Homo sapiens: one gene and its partner. The protein of the gene in region 2 interacts with the protein of the main gene of each other region in a pairwise test. Each region holds a gene or a part of one and is shown on either strand. Other genes may lie near its edges.

What was found.
Region 1: the proteins of BTBD10 (region 2) and KCTD5 come close enough for resonance energy transfer, tested with the Homo sapiens proteins (one study listed by BioGRID).

The regions. Positions count from the first base shown.
Region 1 is NC_000016.10:2,680,278-2,684,189, reverse strand, and holds the start of KCTD5 (BTB/POZ domain-containing protein KCTD5), read right to left. Parts: upstream 1,668-3,912; 5' UTR 1,642-1,667; coding exon 1,390-1,641; intron 1-1,389. UniProt on the Homo sapiens protein: Its interaction with CUL3 suggests that it may act as a substrate adapter in some E3 ligase complex. Does not affect the function of Kv channel Kv2.1/KCNB1, Kv1.2/KCNA2, Kv4.2/KCND2 and Kv3.4/KCNC4.
Region 2 is NC_000011.10:13,461,562-13,465,473, forward strand, and holds the start of BTBD10 (BTB/POZ domain-containing protein 10), read right to left. Parts: upstream 1,662-3,912; 5' UTR 1,531-1,661; intron 1,429-1,530; exon of another isoform or gene 1,061-1,428; intron 1-1,060. UniProt on the Homo sapiens protein: Plays a major role as an activator of AKT family members by inhibiting PPP2CA-mediated dephosphorylation, thereby keeping AKTs activated. Plays a role in preventing motor neuronal death and accelerating the growth of pancreatic beta cells.

The DNA of each region.
Region 1 (3,912 bases), on a different chromosome or scaffold from region 2:
ATGCTTGAGTAGAAAGGCAAGGGAGTGACCACTAAGCCCTGTTATTTAAAAAGAAAAACCAAACAGTAAAACATACACCCACACTTATAAAAGGAAAATCACAGCTAACAAACGCCTATTTCTATCCTGGGGATGACTGTCATTTCCTGGGAGGTCAATTCTCTGAGTAGAGGGCTTGGTCAAATGAGCAATGGAAACAGTTGGAAGTTGTGGGGAGGCACAGGAGGGTTGGCATCTCAAACCCTCATTTCCACCCACAAGGCTGCCTTAGCAGTAACTCCAGATTCTCACTTCCTGATCACGGTCATGCCATGCTGAGAATGGTCTCAGTCAGGCTTCTCAAACTTGAAGAGGGATCCGAACCTTTCTGGGAAGCCTCCTGCATGGCAAATGTTGGCTGCCAAGGCACAAAGCCAAGCGCAGTCATGTAAGCTCAACTGAAAGACCCCGCAAAGTTAGTATAAGGCTTGTGAACTGCCTTGAATAAATATAGGTAACAACTTCTTCAAACAGGCTTTTTTGTGAGTTTCAATCCTGCACAACTCCCAAGACACGGTTCCTCGGCTCCACAACTCTTGATAAATAAAGGTAGCAAAAGGTTTCTATTACCATCTACCCAACAGCATGAGCATTTCGCTTGATGAAAGACAAGCTGCAAACTAACCTGGAAATTCCTGTCCTTTTGCGAAGACAGTGGGAAAACTAAGCCAATTAGAAAGCAGATTGAAAGATTCCTTACCTGACCCTTCCTGGACATCCCTAAAGCAACCCTTAATATGAGCAAAATCCCCTTCGAAAAATCATACTATATACTACGGACGCATCTTCTAAGAGGTGCTGAGTGGGTGCTGCGTGCTGTGGATGGAAAGGATGGAGCGCCAACTCTCTAAATGCAAGTCACCAGGGAAAAAAAGGGCCGCCCATATCAACCCCCACGTCAGCGTTAATTCAAACGTCCAGAATGTGAAACAACGCCAAGGGTTCTGTTTCCAGAGCCAGCAAGTACCCTGGGACAGAGAAGAGAAGGCGTTCACACACCCTGGGCAAAAGAACCTAGTGAGAAAAAGAAAGTAGAATCACAGCAAAGTCCGGGGTCTAGGAAGCCTCCTCCACCAAAGAGCAAAGAGGGCGAGGAAGAGACACCCCCAAGGTGAATCGACTCAGGATCCTCAAAGGCAGTGGACGCCAGGGCGCCATCCTCACCCTCCCCTCCCAGGGTAGGGGATCGGGGCAAGCTGGGGAGGAGCTGGCGACAAGGGAGCGCGGGGCTCGAAGCCCGAGGAGAGTCGCCCGCTCCCGCTGAAGTCTCCTCCGCACGAAGCAGGGCGTGTGCAGGAGCCGCAGGCCGGGAAGGCCAGGACCCTCCGGGCTGGCCCGTGAGGCCCTCACCTTGTCTGAGTCCAGGTCGGGATCGGCCTGGCATAAGCGGTACAGGAAGGATTTCGGGTCCCGGCACAGGGTCTGCCGAGTGGTGAGGAAGTAGGTGCCGCCGACGTTGAGTCGGACCCACTTGGACACGCTGCCAGGGCGCTGGGCCAGGGCGCCGAGCCCAGCGCTGCAGCGGCGGCACAGGCCGCCCCCCAGCCCCGCCCCGATGCCGCCCCGGGCCGGCGACAGGAGCTCGCAGTGATTCTCCGCCATGATCCCAGCAAGCCCCGCAACAGCTCCCTTCCACCGGAAGCGTCCGGCTTTTAATAGCGTCCTCTGAGTTCTGTCCCGCCCACAGGTCCGCCCTGGTAGAGCGCCCGCCCCGGCGTCACGCGGTAGGCGGAAGTTCCGGTCCCGAAAAGCAGGAGGCTGGGCCCGCTTCCGGCGGGAGCGGAGCACGGGGTGATCTGGGCACTAACGCTGATGGGGAGCAGCGGACATCAGCCTCGACCTCCCACGAGCGGTGCACGAGCGCCTGACCCAGACCTCGACCCTAGCCTTCACCCCCACCCTGACTCCAGTTCATGAACTGGTCAAAGGAAGAGCCATGCCAGCAAACGTCTACACTGTACATGCTTTTTATTACAAGACTACGGAGCATAGGAGGAAAATTCATCATCTGGTAACTACACCTAAAGCACAAATATTTGGGGGGAAAAAAAGAACAGATTCATTAAATTATATGATTAAATCATTGACCCAATAGAAAATTTATATAATAAGGGCGGGGCCTGGTGGCTCACGCCTGTAATCCCAGCACTTTGGGAGGCCGAGGCGGGAGGATCAGGCGGTCAGGAGATCGAGACCACGCTGGCCAACATGGTGAGGCCCGGTCTCCACTGAAAATACAAAAATTAGCCTGGCGCGGTGGTGGGCGCCGGTAATCCAAGCTACTCGGGAGGCTGCGGCAGGAGAATGGCGTGAACCCGGGAGGCAGAGGTTGCAGTGAGCTGAGATCTCGCCACTGCACTCCAGCCTGGTGATAGGGCGAGAGTCTGTCTCAAAAAAAAAAAAAGAAAGTTTTTGTAATAAAGCCAGAAAAAAGTTGTAAAATATATAGTAATTATTCACATTCAAGGCTGTATATCAATACATATAACAACGTGGCCCCGAACATGAATTCAATACAAATAATTCATATATTAGAATTTAGGCCGGGCGCGGTGGCTCATGTCTGTAATCCCAACACTTTGGGAGGCCAAGGTGGGTGGATCACGAGGTCAGGAGTTCAACATCAGCCTGGCCAAGATGGTGAATCTCCGTCTCTACCAAAAATACAAAAAATTAGCCAGATGTGGTTGTGGGCGCTCGTAATCCCAGCTACTCGGAGGCTGAGGCAGAGAATTGCTTAAACCCAGGAGGCGGAGGTTGCAGTTAGCCGAGATCAGGCCACTGCACTCTAGCCTGGGCGACAGAGTGAGACTCCGTCTCAAGAAAAAAAAAGAATTTAAATAACAGGCTGAACTAGAGGCCAACAATAGCCAGCAAATAACCTTCTATAAGATTAAAAACACAAAAGTGTATATCCTAATACCATTGTATTATTTGTTTTCATGAGTTCTTTTAATTTTTGCTTTGTCTGTACATCACAGTTACAGCTACAGACCAGGTAGAGAATATTACGCATGTTCTGACTGCCACCCACCTGAAAGACGTACTAGTCATTTATCCTATTTCATGTTGTGAAGGAACAGCTACAGCAGCTCTAAATACTGTAACAATTTAATTTTGCCAACATCCAACTTAACAGTCGTAATAGAGGCTTTTACCAGCACAATGACCCCTATTCGTAGTCATTCTGCCAGACGGTTAGGCTATGTGGGTTACACAGCTTAAAAAAGGTCTGCCTTTTGTAAAAAGTTCTCTGTACATAGTTTGGTGTTTCTTCATATGGAAGAAATGAGTTATGGGGAAAATTCAGGTACACACGTAGGCTCGTTCAGTTGCTCACCACAGCCATCTCAACAGATGAAAGTGCTCTTTGTTGGAAACAGCTTCCTCCTCACACCAGTTCTCCACAGGCAGCCTCATCTACAACCCTGCAATTTTGGGCCAGAAGTGGTGGCCCCTCAGAGGCTCTGAAGTGCCTCCAGCCCCGATTCAGGCACTTGCCACGTGTGCTGCGTAAGAAGGGACCCCACCCAGTGAGTCAACATAGGCTCATGTCAAGTTTGAAAATAACTGGGGAAAAGTGTATGACAACATCTTCCAGAACATAGTACCTTCACCGTATTCTCACAGCAGCTGCGATCTCTGAAGTCTCAGCAGTGAGCACCCCGGGTCTGTCAACCAGCCAGGCAAGGGGGGGCCCTCAGGCTTCAGAGGGCAAGAAACCAAATTCCGTGCAATTTGGCCATAATCTCTGGTAGAGTGAAGCAGCACTGAACGCAGTGCCTAGAAAAACCTCCTGCACGTTCCCCTGCACAATCAATGGACCCCAACTACAGTGGAGAAATGAAGAATCCAACCAAATTTGGGTGGTCT
Region 2 (3,912 bases):
CAGACCACAGTGGTTTGCAACTCCATAGTTAATAATTTAAAAAATTCACATGGCTTAGAGGGAGTGAGAAAGAAGAAAATTCAGACTGGTGGAAGGGTAACATAATTACATAGGGTTAGAAGTCTATCTGAAAGCTTTTCTGGGAGTGAGAAAAAAGGTGAACGAACACAAAAACATTGTTGAAACACTAAAAGCTTTCCTGATTGAACACTGTTACTCTCTGGTGGTTCCTTACCACATTCCATGCTTCAGAAACTTCCTTCCTACTTTGTATGTATTAATATAATAGCTGTTAGGTCATACACGCTGAGAAATATTGGGAAAATTTATAAAACACATTTACATCATCAGAAATAATTCTTCTCACACTTTTTTTTTTTTTTTTTTTACCAGTCTTGGTCCACTTTCAAATCCCTTCCCAAGTATTTTCTACTGCTTTCCGCTTTATATTCAAATGACAACTGCAGTCCTGGGTTTCAGGACTGAACTTCAATCCTGGACAGGCTCTCTAATACAGAAACTCTTTTGGCCGTTATGGCTGCATTCTTTATTATATCTCTTATTCCGATTTCCACAGTCTCTTTCATTGAAAATTTATCCCTAACCCCCTCTCTAAAAGATTTTGATCAAATTTGTGTAGTTGGGGGGTTGGGAGGATAGGGGCGGGAAGGAACTCAGTTGTCCAAATACAATTAATATCCTGTGCTGTTTCATTTAGATTGCTAATTTAAATAAAAAGCATGAAAACTCTGCAAGATAATAAATCTTCGTAAAATAATCTTGTTTACTAAGTGCACAAAGCCACAAGCAAGTGAAGCTCTATCTTTCAGCATGTCTGGACTAGTGACTTTTCATCATGGACTCAGAATACTGAGAAAGGAGAAGCAGGAAATCTGTGAGGCCCAGGGACAGTCACACTGGCCCACACTAACAAATTACTAACCGATGTCTCACCTTCCCCCGCCCCATTCCCAAAGATAAGGGTGTCAGGGCACCTGCATCTGAAGAAGAAAGACATCAGAACCTTTTCCGTGCAAGTTTTAAGAAAACAAAGCTTTACCACACGTAAAATGGTTACAACATAAAACCACGCAGCACGTTAGTGGGGTCTCACTCCTCTTCACCCAGAGGGAGGCTGCCCACCACCTTATCCCCTATTGTGATGCGCCTTCCTCAGGATGTCGCTGCGTTCGTCTGAGATGACAGGAAAGGGGCGGGGCACGGGGTTCCTCTGCCCTGGAAAGGGATGAGGGTATCGCCTTCATCCCCGGAGAAAGGCCCCCGGACTCCCAACCCAAAAGCAGCAGCCGCAAAACTCAAGTCTTATCCCGGCCTCTCCTAATTGGGTGCTCGTGGCCGGAGCCCAAAACGCCACCCACGGTACCCGAGCAGGGTCCGGCCGCCCAGACCACCGCCGCAGCAGCCTGGCTCTCACGCCCAGATTCGCCCTCCGCCCCTTTCCTCTTTCGCCCCGGCCAAGCCCAGCCTCCCGCGCCGCCCCCGCCGAGTTCCCCAGCTGAGTCCACTCACTCTCGAACCTGTAGTCCCCCTTCAGTGCCCACACAAGATTGGGGCAAAGGCCGGGGCCAGTGACACCTCCACTTCCTCCTCAGCCAGATCCCTCCGGAGGTGGCTGTGGAGGAAGCCACTGAGGCGGCTGCGCGTAGCGGAGCCGCCCCGGCAGGTTGCAGGCCGGCTCCTCAGCCTCTTACCGCGAGAGCTCACAATGCGAAGAGGCGAGGCCAGCAGCGTTCTCGCGAGAACGGTGCTCTCCGCCCAGGGGTGGGCGGGGCACCGAAGGAGAAGGCAGTTGAGGGCGCGGCGGCCACGGGTGGGATCTCAGGCGCGTGGAGAGGAAGGCGCCGCGCGACCTCTCCTCACAGACATCAGCTCGGGTCAACCGCGGGCCTCGAGCCCGAGTGGCTGAGGGCTGTTACCTTCAAACCTTTGAATCCCACGTTTTCCCCTTGACTTCCTGTCACCGTTAGAGAAAAGTGGACAGCGTCTCGGTCACAGAGTTGGAGAAATAGTGCAGGGACTCTTCAGGGAGAGCGTTTTCCTCATCAAAGCAAACTGCAAAATCGCTTCTGCCGGCGTGGACCTGATGAGAGTCGGTCGTCGTGAGGGACACCCTCTGTTCCCTAACGTCCCCCGCTGCTTATTTTTAAACGCTCGGTTGGCGGGAACCCCTGTGCCAGCTGAAACTCCTTCAGTTTGGCCGCCTAGGAAACACCGAGAGTCACCTACATGGGCTGGCTGGGCAATAAAAACGGGAAAAAATGTAAAAGACACAGTCTCCGCCTTCGAAGCTTACACCCCCGGGGCAAGACCTACAGGAAAATAGATAATCCCATTATTCTCTGATAAAAGCCGAGCTGCTTGCCATGAGCTCTGGGAGCAGACGGGGAGGCCTTGTTGAGAAAGCCTTCACCTGGGAGTGACAATTGCGCTGAATCTTAAGCATAAGTAAGTTCTCCAGTTTAGGGAAGAGAGGGAAGGGCATTGCAAGGAGAGGAAGCAAAGAGGAAGAGGACCTGGTTTGAGTAATTGGGTATGAAAACAGATATTGCAGCAAGAACTTTGTTGAAAAACCTTTAACCACTGTTTAGTTCGGATGAGAACATTCCCAGGCTCCTACGTGTGATACGCAAAGTATTTTCCAAATCAGTGTTTATGCTAAGAAGATGAGCAGTTGAGCTGGACAATTATAAGATAACTTCATCTTTCTCCTGTAAGGACACTTAAATATCAGAAACCTAAGAGAAACGGGTTATTGTCGTAATTCACTAAGTTATTATAGCCAACATTTTGCTAAATTGGAAATTGCCAATAATTTCAAGTTGTCTACATAAGAGCAATCTAATAGGAATTTTGTGATACAGTTTCTCAGAGAAACTCTGAGAAAATTCTCAGGCAAAAAACAAAAACGTCATCAGTCCTGATTTATTATCAAAATTTTCTCCTATAAGCTCTGCTCAGAAGAAGTCATTCTGTAGTCCAAGTTAGGGCTAATGAGGAGCCATACTCTTACATCAAAATAGAAGCTGTCCTTTTCTAAAGAAAGACTCTGGTATTTTGCTGTAGTTTCCACTCACCTTCCTTTGGACACATTATTTTCATATTACATATAAAAATATGTATACTATATGAAAAATACTATGTATACTATAGTTTTATTTGGCTTACCATACTCTCCCTACGAATAAGCCCAACACTTAGGAGGAAAACAAAAAAGTTATTCTAACCCTGCTGATACGGTTTGGATCTATGTCCCCACCTGACCTCTCATGTGGAATTGTAATCCCCAGTGTTGGAGGTCGTTGGATCATGGGGGCAGATTTCCCTGTTTTTGCCATTCTGGTGATAGTGAGTTCTGGTGAAATCTGTTCTTTAAAAGTGTGTGGCGCCCCCCCACCCCCGCCCCACTCCTCCCACCATATAAGACGTGCCTGCTGTACCTTGGCTTTCTGCCATGATTGTAAGCTTCCTGAGGCCTCCCCAGAAGCCCAGCAGAAGCCGTCGGACTTCCTGTACAGCCTGCGGAGCCGTGAGCCAGTTAAACCTCTTTGTTTTATAGCAGTGCAAGAATGGACTAATGCACCTGCCATAGGCCAATTGGGTGTTCTGTTAAGCATAATTTCACATCAAGTTCTTGGAATTTTCCAGGAAGCATTAGAAGAATCATATGAATGAAAGACTTCAGGCAAAATATGGAAACTTTGTTCCATGCTGGAATCTGTTCAAACCATCATATCCTACTTGGATGGGTCCTGGAGCTCATTTCATTCTGCTGTTCTTCAAAAACAAAAGAGAATGGGAGTTGGGAGAAAATAGAAAATCGAATAAAGTTTCTACTGTTCTTTGCTTTAAAAGAAAATTAATCGGCCGGGTTCGGAGGCTCGCGCCTGTAAT